2 separate regions of the Homo sapiens genome follow, and region 2 is linked to region 1. Evidence: fine-mapped expression QTL. A gene starts in region 1. The other region holds a variant in brackets. All regions are shown on one strand. Distances are between the middles of the regions. Region 1 holds the start of NIPBL-DT (NIPBL divergent transcript). Region 2 overlaps NIPBL (NIPBL cohesin loading factor).

Region 1 (5,386 bases):
TTATGCAAGCAAAATACCATTTGATTTAATAGAGAAATACTGTGATATGAATTGAAACAATTTCTTTGATTCTATAACCTGGAAAAAAAATGGTATAAACTATATACAAGTTAAAACCCTCAAAGGCAGTGTTGTTTTCATTCACTGCCATGCATGAGATGTCTAGCATAAAGCTAATTAGCGCCTAATAAGTCCTCAATAAGGGAAGAAACTAAAAAAACTTAAAAATTTTAAATTAAATGACACAATAATGCCAAGACTTTCCAAAGCAGATTGACTGTAGCAGCTGCAGTTACCTGGACATGCAAAATTACTAGTTTACCAGTAACATTTAAGAAAGCAGACAAGAAGATAATTGTGCTTCTATTAGCGAATTGAAATAATGGTATTTTGAAACTGAGTGAAAAACACATTCTGAGTCATCTGTATTAACTTAAAGCTGTTCTGAAGATTAATGGGAAAAATAATAATGAATAGACGATTGGATTTACTAAACAATGTTTGATTAATTGTATTAATGGTTATAAAATACCTATCAAGGCTGTCTTTTCTTGTCCAAAAATTCAATACATGAAATATGAAAATTTGTAATACCATAGCCAAAGCCTTATTGCATAGCTTCTAGCTTACTGATATATTTACTTATTTTAATTTAAAAAGCCTGTTTTTCCAGCCACTAGGAAATAAGATTTCTCACGTTTTATAGTACTCAAAAATCATGATTAAGTATATCTAATGCTAACCTAAGTGTAAGCAAACAGCAAACTAAATGGTGAATTAAAATATCCACACCAAGCCTGACCTCAGCTTTCATTGAACCTTTTCTTCAGAAGAAAACTAAAAATAAATTTCACTAGCATTTGCTTTGCTTGACAGCATAATTGAGTAGCAACCAAAGTAGCCACATGTGGTCCTTTATGTAAGGCCTTCTAGCCTCAGAAACACACACCTTTTGAATTAGCGTGCCTGGTACCCATTTGTGCCCAATAAATACTTGCTGAATGAACTTTTCCAATAGTGCTGGATTTGCTCTGAGCCAACCAAATTCTCACTTTTAATGTATTTTGAAAGACAGAGGACGACAAGATGAAGAATGCAGTTTGAGACTCAGAAGAGCAAACATAATCGGCCCAGTATGGATATGATCATTTGATGCACTGTCCTCGGGCATGCTCATTTACAGAAGCCTAAAAACAAATTTTATCCCTCATTTGTGGGTTTCTGGTGTTGTGGAGGGCTTTCCAATGTTTAGAAGCAATATATTTTTATAGAATTCTGTAATAAACGTGTTTTAAATCTTTTATAAAGCTCTCTGTAGCATATAAGTACATATTAAAGACAGAAATGGGGGAGCATCAAGGCCCTTATAATCGCATTCATTCCTTAACCACATACTACGCATCTACTGTGTGGCATTCTAGGCGGGGGCCGTAACACCAGTGCAGAAAAACACAACCTCTTGTCCTCTTAGAGCTTACATTGCACTGGGGAAGGAGAGATAAGAAGATAAACAAGTATGGATATGTAGACTGTCCAAAGGATAAAATGAGAAGGGGGCTAGGGAACTTTCAGTTTAAAAGTAGCCGCGGAAGCACCGAGTGACACGAGCAAAATCCTGAAGGTGAAGGAGCAAGCCCTGTGGACGACGCTCAGGGAAGAGTCCTACTCGCAAGGATGCCAGGGCAGGCCCGCCCCCACCCTCAACGGCGCGCGGGGACTTCTGCCGCAGTCAAGGCTTTGGCTCACTCCCCTCAAGACGGGAAGCCATTCGCAGGGCCTAGAGAAAAGGAGTGACAGGATCTTGGCCCCCTGAGTGGCCTGAGGCAAAAGGAATAATCTAAGCAAGTTTTCCTACTTACTTTTAGCGCACTGGTACACACACAAATACACAATACAATTCATATAACACGAATTTCGTCCCGGTTGAGTAAAATTCCGCTTACCTACTGCACTTTTTACCGAAAATAGCCCCTTTTTAATTTACACAAACTTAATAGAGAACGGTGGAACAATGGTTACTTCTTGTTTTACAATTTAAAAACTACAACAACCATAGTACTGTACGTATAATCACATATTGTATTCCAGCCTTGTCCAGCGCCTCAGTTTTCCGAACCTAAAGAGGAAAACGATGTTTGAAATCAGCTGGCCGCAGGCCCGCGGGTCGCCCGCAGTCACCGGTGGCTGAGTCGGGGCCGGCGGTTCTCCCCGCGCGCTCGGCTCCACCCACACCTAGAGGGGGGCGCCCGGGCAGCCGCGGGCGAGCTTCTCGCTCGCGCAGCGTCGCCTACAGGCCTTTATCCTGACCGTTAGAGAAGAACCCAAACCTCTGCCGACAAAAAGCAAAAGCAGCGGAGACCGCGTATTTCCAGAAATAAACGCATCATCACAAACACGATTCCAATTCAATCCAGCCGACAGTCGTCTTCACCTCCAAAGGTTGCGTTCTTATTCGCAGAAATAACACGCAGTCGGGCGTAAGGTCCCGGCTCTCAAAAGGCAAGGTGTACGATCCATCCATCCACCCGGCTGCAGGGACACCATTTAAAACGGGCATCATCGCCATCGAATCGCGGGCGTCCTCTGTGGGGCCGCCCGGAGATCGGCTCCCTAAAGCTAACGACGACCTGGGACAGCCAGCGCGGCCTCCAGCCGCCGCCGTCGGCGACCTGAGAGCCCGTCCGGGCCTGAGTGCCCCCCACGCTCACGACCACCACCGAACTCGGGCCCCGCTCCTGTCGGCCTCCAGGAAAATAAAGACAGAGGAGAGCCGGCCCGCCTGTGTCGCAGGGCAAACGTCGCTCTGAAGCATCGACAATACTGGCAACATCCACAGCCGCCCTGAGGGGACGGGCGTAGAGGAGAGCTGCCGCCTCCCGGCTGCTGGGCCCGGGTGCCGCGCGGCGCGGCCGAGGACGCGAGCCCAAGTGGCGGCAGCGGCGGCTGCGGCGGTGGCGGAAGTGGAGTGGGGAAGAGGGGGTGGTTGTTAGTGTTTGGCGCCGGCGGAGGGAGTCATTCCTGCAGCTGCACTTCCGGTCGGCATTTTGTTCTGAGAGGGAGAGACGGAACGAGAGAGAGACACACACAGGGCTCCTTCCCCCCGCCCTCCCCCCCCTCCCTCCGTCGGTACCGACTCACCCGACACCACCAAGCCGCAGGGAGGGACGCCCCCGCCGACAGGAGAATTGGTTCCCGGGCCCGCGGCGATGCCCCCCCGGTAGCTCGGGCCCGTGGTCGGGTGTTTGTGAGTGTTTCTATGTGGGAGAAGGAGGAGGAGGAGGAAGAAGAAGCAACGATTTGTCTTCTCGGCTGGTCTCCCCCCGGCTCTACATGTTCCCCGCACTGAGGAGACGGAAGAGGAGCCGTAGCCACCCCCCCTCCCGGCCCGGATTATAGTCTCTCGCCACAGCGGCCTCGGCCTCCCCTTGGATTCAGACGCCGATTCGCCCAGGTAAATTCCTGCTCTTTATTTCGGCGGCGGCGGCGGCGGCGCCGGCGCCAGGTCCTCAGCGTCTCTCCTCCTCGCTCCCCTCCCCGCCGTTTCCTTAGCGGCCCCAGGTCTCTTCCACAGGCGAGTCTAGAGTTCGCTCCTCTCTGGTGGCAGCCGCCTTGGGTAGCGGTGGTTTTGTACCCTCTCCCGGCCGGCTCCGGTGGCGGGGACTGGGCTCCTGCTGGGCGGCCGGGGAGGCGTAGGCCCGGCGGAGAGTGCAGGCCGCGGGCCAGCGGAATCTACTTGAGCTCGGGGATTAGGAGAGCTCCGGGCTGAGCGGAGCGACTGCTGGTCGGTGACAGGCCTCGCCCGGGAGTGGAGCCGTAGCTAGTGGGGAGGCGGAAACAATACAACTAACAGCAAATGTGCCCTGATCGTCCCCATATTTACAACTTTCCCGGTCCGGGAGTGGGGAACGTCCCAGTGAAACAAACAACCTCCCTTCTTCCCCCTGTGACCCCATGAAGGGAGGAAGTAGTTTCAGTTAGTGAGACAAACGTAAATACTCAGACGCGGATCCAGTGGTAATTCTTTCTCTTTCTAAAACTTGTTTGGACGTTGGAAAGTTCATAAAGACTCATTTTCTTTTTTAAAGAATTAAATCGTCCACATGAATATTTAATACAGAAAAACATACTGTGGTAGACACTGCACATCTCCCCCTCCCCAAGAGCTTTTATCTTGTTGTTTTGACAGTGTGTTGTTGCACATGGACTTTTTATTCAAAGACAAGTATAAAGTACTTGACAGGTTTACTCTGCCACTTTCTATTTGTATGCGTTATGTAAGGGCAGTTTTAAGCGACTATACGTAAAACACTCAGGTACTTCCTGACCAAAACGTGTAGGAGCATACAAAGAATTTTAAGTGTTCTGAGAATTGTGCTGAGATACGGGTAAAACCACTTTTCTTTTCTTTTTCCAAAAAAGAAATTAAGTTATACTTAAAATCCTTGGGAGGTTAAAAAATTGTAGAAGGTGCCATCCTTTTATGTCAGGGCAGTTCTTCTTGAGGTCCCAGGATTGTCATTGGCTGTTTGTGCCATGATGTTTGACTGTGTAATGAGAGAGGTGTCATTTTAATAGGTTAAATGTATCTGTAAATGCTGGAGAAAAATATCAGTTCTAACTTGACAAGTTCTAGTTCATGAGTAAGTTAAGTGTTTCGAGCTTGTTTATGGAGGCGTTCATAATGTAGGTTGGTATAAGGGGGAAACACCAATTTAAAATTCCTCAGTCAGGCAAATTGCTAGAAAAGTGTACCTGGGTTACACGTTTTGATATTTTGTTTCATATTCGCTGAAGGAAAACTTTCATTGGTTAAAATGAAGCAGCACTGCTCAGCGAAATCCCTTGTTTTACTAGTGTTTGTTACATTGGTTCATATTTTTTGTGTCATTAAATTATTGTCACTGTAGAATAAGTTATTTTGTGGAGGTTATTTTTGAGTTTAGCGTCCTGATTACAATAAATTGTTTCACATTTCCTGCAAACGTACGGATAAATGTTTAAAAGAATGAAGTTAATATAGCTGTCACGTACTAGGCATGTTTTTAATGCTATAAATCCGTGTAGTAGTCAGTAGCGTGTCCGTGATTTGTATTGGTCAGGGAGCAGTTTGAATTTTAAAAAGCCTGAAGCTCCTGCTGAGCCCCAATCCCGGCCTCCCTCCCTCCCACTAATCTCCCATTCCTGTCTTTGTGCTGCCTGCTCCTGTTAGACACTGTTTGCTACGGGGCCTCAGGCCTACTGCGGGTGGGGGGGTGTGCGAGTGGGGGGCATGCCAGGGAGGGAATGCAGACGGGAGGAATACTTCACATCTTAAGAAAGCAGAGGGTTTGTTTTTTTGGGGATGGAGGTGGTAAGGGCTTCATTATAAATGTTTAAAAGGCCTTCA
Region 2 (5,386 bases), 65 kb after region 1:
GGATATGTACTGTTGTGTGCGTGTACAGCAGGTGTGTGTGTGTACAGTTGTGTGTACATATAGTTATGTGTAACAGTACCACACTCAACTTACTATTCTATCACTGTAAACACTACTTCAGGTGGTATCTCTTCATAACCACACCTGCGCTCTTGTTGTTTGTTTTTTTCACAGGGTCTTGCTCTGTCACCCAGGCTGGAATACAGTAGTGTAGTCATAGCTTATTGCACCCTCAACCTCCCTGGCTCAAGTGATCCTTACACCTCAGCCTCCCAAATAGCTGGGACTACAGGTGCATACCACCACACTTGACTAATTTTTGTATTTTTTGTAGAGATGGGCTTTTGCCATATTGCCCAGACTATTCTTGAACTCTTGGGCTCAAACTATCCATCTGCCTCGGCCTCCTGAAGTTGGTATTACAGGCTTGAGCCACTGCGTCTGGCCCACTTGGGAGTTTTCAGCCCCTGGCAACCACTAATCTTTTCACCATCTCTACAATGTTATTATTTCAAGAATGTTACAAAAATGGAATCATGTAGTTTGTAGGCTTTTGAAATTGGTATTTTTTCTACTTAGTGTAATTTCCTTTATATCATCCAAGTTGATGTTTTTACCAATAGTTTTTCCCTTTTATTGTTCTGGCAGTCTGTAGTATGGCTCTACCATCGTTGGTTTAACCATTCTGCATTGAAGGACATTTGTTTCCAGCTTTTCGCTATTATGAAATTGTCTTAGTCCATTTTGTGCTGCTATAACAGAATATCTGAGACTGGGTAATTTATAAAAAACAGAGATTTATTTCTTATAGTTCTGGAGTCTGGAAAGTTCAAGATTGAGGGGCCCACATCTGACGAGGACCTTCTTGCTGTGTCATCCCATCATGGAAAGTGGAGGAGCAAGAGAGCACAAGACATTAGTGGGGAGAAATAGAAGGGGACAGAACTCTTCTTTTTATCAGGAACCCACTCCTGAGACAACAACATTAATCCATTTATGAGGGCAGAGTCCTTGTGAACTAATCACCTCTTAAAGGTCCCATCTCTCAACACTGTTGTATTGGGGATTAAGTTTCCAACAAATGAACTTTGGGGGACACGGTCAAACCATAGCACGAATAAAGCAGCTATGAACATTCATTTGCAGGTTTTTGCATGAACACAGTTTTCATTTCATAAATACCCAAGAATGTACAATTGCCCTTTTACTTAGCATTTAGATTTTTCCTTTAAAGTTTATTCTGAGGCAATTGTTTTCATACTCTGTTTGTGAGAAACTATTGTTCTTTCCAAGGCCTTAAAGCTATGACTAATTCTGTAAACACAGTTATTGTAATTTCAGGTTAATATTTTTAAGGAGTATATACAGCCTTGTGTGAAAAGAGAGAAATGGATTCAAAACTAAGCAATTTTTAAGTGTGCCATGTTTATTAACTAAGATATGTATGTAAATAACCAGTAGATTATTTTTTGAAGTAGCATGAGTCAAAATAAATCAAATTGAGAGCCCCTTCAGCTTGTCTGTCAGGTCAGGAATGAACTAATTTGTACGTACCTTTTCTCCCTCATCTTGTGTCAGTCCTTCACTATGTACCAGTTACATAATCTTCTTTCCTTAGCTAGGCTCTGTCCTTCTTCAGGGACTTGAGCATGTTAATCATTATGGATCCTCATTTCTTCTTCCGCCTTTGCCTGTTTAACTCTTACTTATGAGATTTCCTTAATGAGACATTTCCTCCCTCCCCAAACGTAAGTTTAGTTACCTTCTTTTTTTCTCTTGCAGCACTTTGTTTTGTTTTGTTTTTCATATAAAAAACAGCTAGGACTCTGGAATGTTAAGAGTGGGGATTCTGGAATCAGACTTGGGCAAGTTACTTAATCTTTATGTGCCTCTGTAATTATTGTCTTAAAATGAACATAAAAGTAGTACCTAATTCATAAGATAAGGATTAAATGAATTAAAATATATAAATCCCTTAGATAACAATGCTAGGCATATGTTAAGCACTATGTTAGTATCATCAAATGTTGTTGTTACTGTTATGGAATTTATCACAAATATGTAATTATATGTTTCGTAGTGATTATTCATCACCCCTACTGGACTCTAAGGTCTGTGAGGATATGTCTATTTGGTTTACCACTGTATCCTCAACAACTGCTGGTTGTCCCTATTGTAGGTGTTAGGTATTAAGTGCATGATAGTGAATACATAAAGGTTTACTTTTTTAAAAAAATTCAGGAAACCAGATAATCAAAAAGAAAGAAATTAATCACTTAATAAGTTTCATCTCCCAGGGATAAGAAAACATAGGTAAAGAGAGATTAAACTACTCCTTCAAGTTCAGGCAATTCAGTATTCTAATTGAAAGTGTTGTGTTTCCTTTTTAAGTCTAGTTTTGCTTTTGTGTTTATATGTCATAATTAATTGTGTTAAAACATAATTTTAGAAACCGATCTTTCTATATCCCTCTTTTCTATACCCCCCAATTTTACTTCACTTTCTTAAACAACAATAAAAGTCTCCTGTAACATAAGAAAGCTTTTCTTCCTAATTATCTTCTTTAGGTACTTTAAAAAAAATCAATCAGCTATCACATGTT[A/C]TGGACAAGGGGAATCACTATTGAGTTAATATCCTAAGACGTTCAAAACCCAGAACCAAAAAAAAAAAAAAAACCACCAAAAATGCTGTTTGGAGAGTTTCAGGTTTAATTAAAGAGTTTGTTCAGGTGTTTTTGCTGTTTGGAATCATTATCTGAGAAATTATGCTATAACACATGGTCATTTGATTCTGTTTCCATTAGCCTTCTACTCTGGGATATATGGCTACTACATTTTCTTTTTAATAATCTGTGTTTCACAGTAAGTTTACTTTTGTGGAACTCTATTATTAAATAAATCAGAAATCTCACTTAAAATTTAAAAAATTATTTTTCTAATGAAAAATTGATATTACAGAACTAAATTTTTAAAAGTTTATGTACAGAAAGGATATAGTATTTGATGTTATCAAAACTTACATGTTATGATTAGTTCATTGACCATGAGTATATTAATTTAGAAAAAAATACATCCCTAATTTACATCATCCTTAATTTGTATACTTGTCATGTAGTGCAGGGGTCCAGTGGAAATCATAGAAAGGTTGCTGTAGGTAATGAGTCACAAGTCACTTTTCTCCATTGATAGCTTCTTTTTCTGTAAATCGAACTATTTAAAATAATTTAAAAACTTAGATCCTTAGTAAAAAGCTGTTTTTTATTGGTCTAAGTTGACTTTTTAAAAATTTATTTTCCCTGGCCAGGTGCAGTGGCTCATGCCTATAATCCCAGCTCTTTGGGAGGCGGAGTGGGGCGGATCACCTCAGGTCAGGAGTTTGAGACCAGCCTGGCCAACATGGTAAAGCCCGTCTCTACTAAAAATACAAAAATTAGCCAGGTGGGGTGGTGAATGCCTGTAATCCGAGCTACTCAGGAGACTGAGGCACAAGAATGGCTTGAACCCAGGAGTCGGAGGTTGCAGTGAGCTAAGATCGTGCCACTGCATGCCAGCCTGGGTGACAGAGTGAGACTCTGTCTTTAAAAAAAAAAAAAAAAAAAAAAAAAGGCCAGGTGCGGTGGCTAACGCCTTGAAATCCAGCACTTTGGGAGGCCAAAGCAGGCAGATCACTTGAGGTCAGGAGTTCGAGACCAGTCTGGCCAAGATGGTGAAACCCCATCTCTACTAAAAATAAAAAAATTAGCTGGGGGGTGGTGGTGCACACCTGTAGCCCCAGCTACTTGGGGGGCTGAGGCACGAGAATCACATGAACCTTGGAGGCAGAGGCTGTAATGAGCCGAGATCGCACCACTGCACTTCAGCCTGGGTGACAGACTCTGTCTCAAAAAAAAAAAAAAAAATTATCCTCCCTAAAAAGCTATTCCAGTATCTTTTTTCACATTCATTAGTTATATTATTTAGTGGTTATATTTGGTTCTCTTGAACTGTTTTCTGAGTTTTTGAAACCAATTGCACAAATACAGCGCAAGGGAAACATGGTTTAGCAGTAGTAGGACTGAAAAAAAGTTTTAATTCTTGCTAACCTCACTGTGAGACTGTAGTATTTTGTACCTAACAAAAAATTTTCCGCAGTAATCTTTAGTTAAAAAAAAACCCTTCTATTACAGAAAACTATATAGTTGTTATATTGTAACTTCAAATTTTTGTTGTATTTTTTATTGTCATATTGTTTTTTCTCAAATATTTTCAGTCCACAATTTGTTGAATCCATGGATGTGGAACCTGTGAATACGGAAGGCCAACTGTACAAAAAAGATCCCAGAATTAATAAGTAAGGTTTAGTAAGCTTTCGGGATACAGAATTAATATACAATATTCTATTGTATTTCTGCATCCTAACAATTAACAATTGGAAATCAAAAATTTGTCAATTATAATAACATCAAAAATGTGAACTACTTAGGAATGAATCTGAAAAAGTATGTGAAAGCACCGTAGACCAAAAACTAGTAAACATTGCTGAGTGAAATTAAAGAATATCTAAATTAGTGGAGACATATAAATTGTTTGTAGATCATAATGCTCAATATGGTTATCAGTTCTCAAATTGTTACATAGATTGAATGCTATATCTATCATATTCCAAGCAGCTTTGTAGAAACTGACAAGATGATTCTAAAATCCATATGTAACTATAAAAAAAAAACCCTAGCATCAGAACAGTTTGGGAAGAGGGAATAAATTTGTACTAAAGCAGAGATATTGATTAGATAATTGGATATGAGTCTAGTATATGGGAGAAAAGTCAGATTTAGAGATACAAATTTGGGAGCCAGAAGCACAGAAGCACTATTTTAAAATCATGCCACTGAATGAGTTCAACAGTAGAGTACGGAGAGGAAGATAAAAAGAACCAGAAGAGGATCCTGGAGTGGCCAGTTTAGTCAGCAGAAAAACTAGGAGAATGTGTTGTTCTGGAAGACAAAGAATTATTCAAGGAGGAGAGAATGATCAACTTTGTTGATTTCTAGGTCAAATCATATGAGGTGAGAGGCTTGCCCACTGAATCTAGCAATTTTAATGTAATTGCTAACTGTGGCAAGATATTTGGTGGAATGGAGAATAAAAACACATATGGTTGTGGGTTCCAAGAGAAAGTAGGAGAAGAATTAGGGATGAATATAAACAACTGAGGGAATTTTGCTGTGAAAGGGAACAGAAAAATTAAGCCATTGTTGGAGAGAGATCATAGGGGTCAAGATAAATGGTGGGGTTTTTTTGTGTTTTGTTTTTATTGGAAGTAGGGACAATTATTTGCATATATATGTTTTATGCTGATTGGAATTATTCAATATGTGGAAAAATTGATGATGCAGGAGAGAGGAGAA

What was found. PIP is the estimated chance that this variant, and not a neighbour inherited with it, causes the effect.
Region 2: its variant is the best candidate, but not a certain one, in a credible set for the expression of NIPBL-DT in whole blood (INTERVAL, PIP 0.52).

What each region holds. Positions count from the first base shown.
Region 1 is chr5:36,873,728-36,879,113 of GRCh38, forward strand. NIPBL-DT (NIPBL divergent transcript) reads right to left here and starts at 2,967. Exons shown (of 1, transcript NR_046262.1): 1 at 1-2,967. It overlaps NIPBL (NIPBL cohesin loading factor), which reads left to right and starts at 3,042. Exons shown (of 47, transcript NM_133433.4): 1 at 3,042-3,451. RefSeq lists an enhancer at 2,338-2,387 and silencers at 2,798-2,907, 3,548-3,667.
Region 2 is chr5:36,938,854-36,944,239 of GRCh38, forward strand. All of the region lies in intron 1 of NIPBL (NIPBL cohesin loading factor), which reads left to right. Among named protein-coding and RNA genes, the nearest start is that of NIPBL, 65 kb to the left of the region's middle. The variant A/C (reference allele first, on the strand shown) is at 2,603.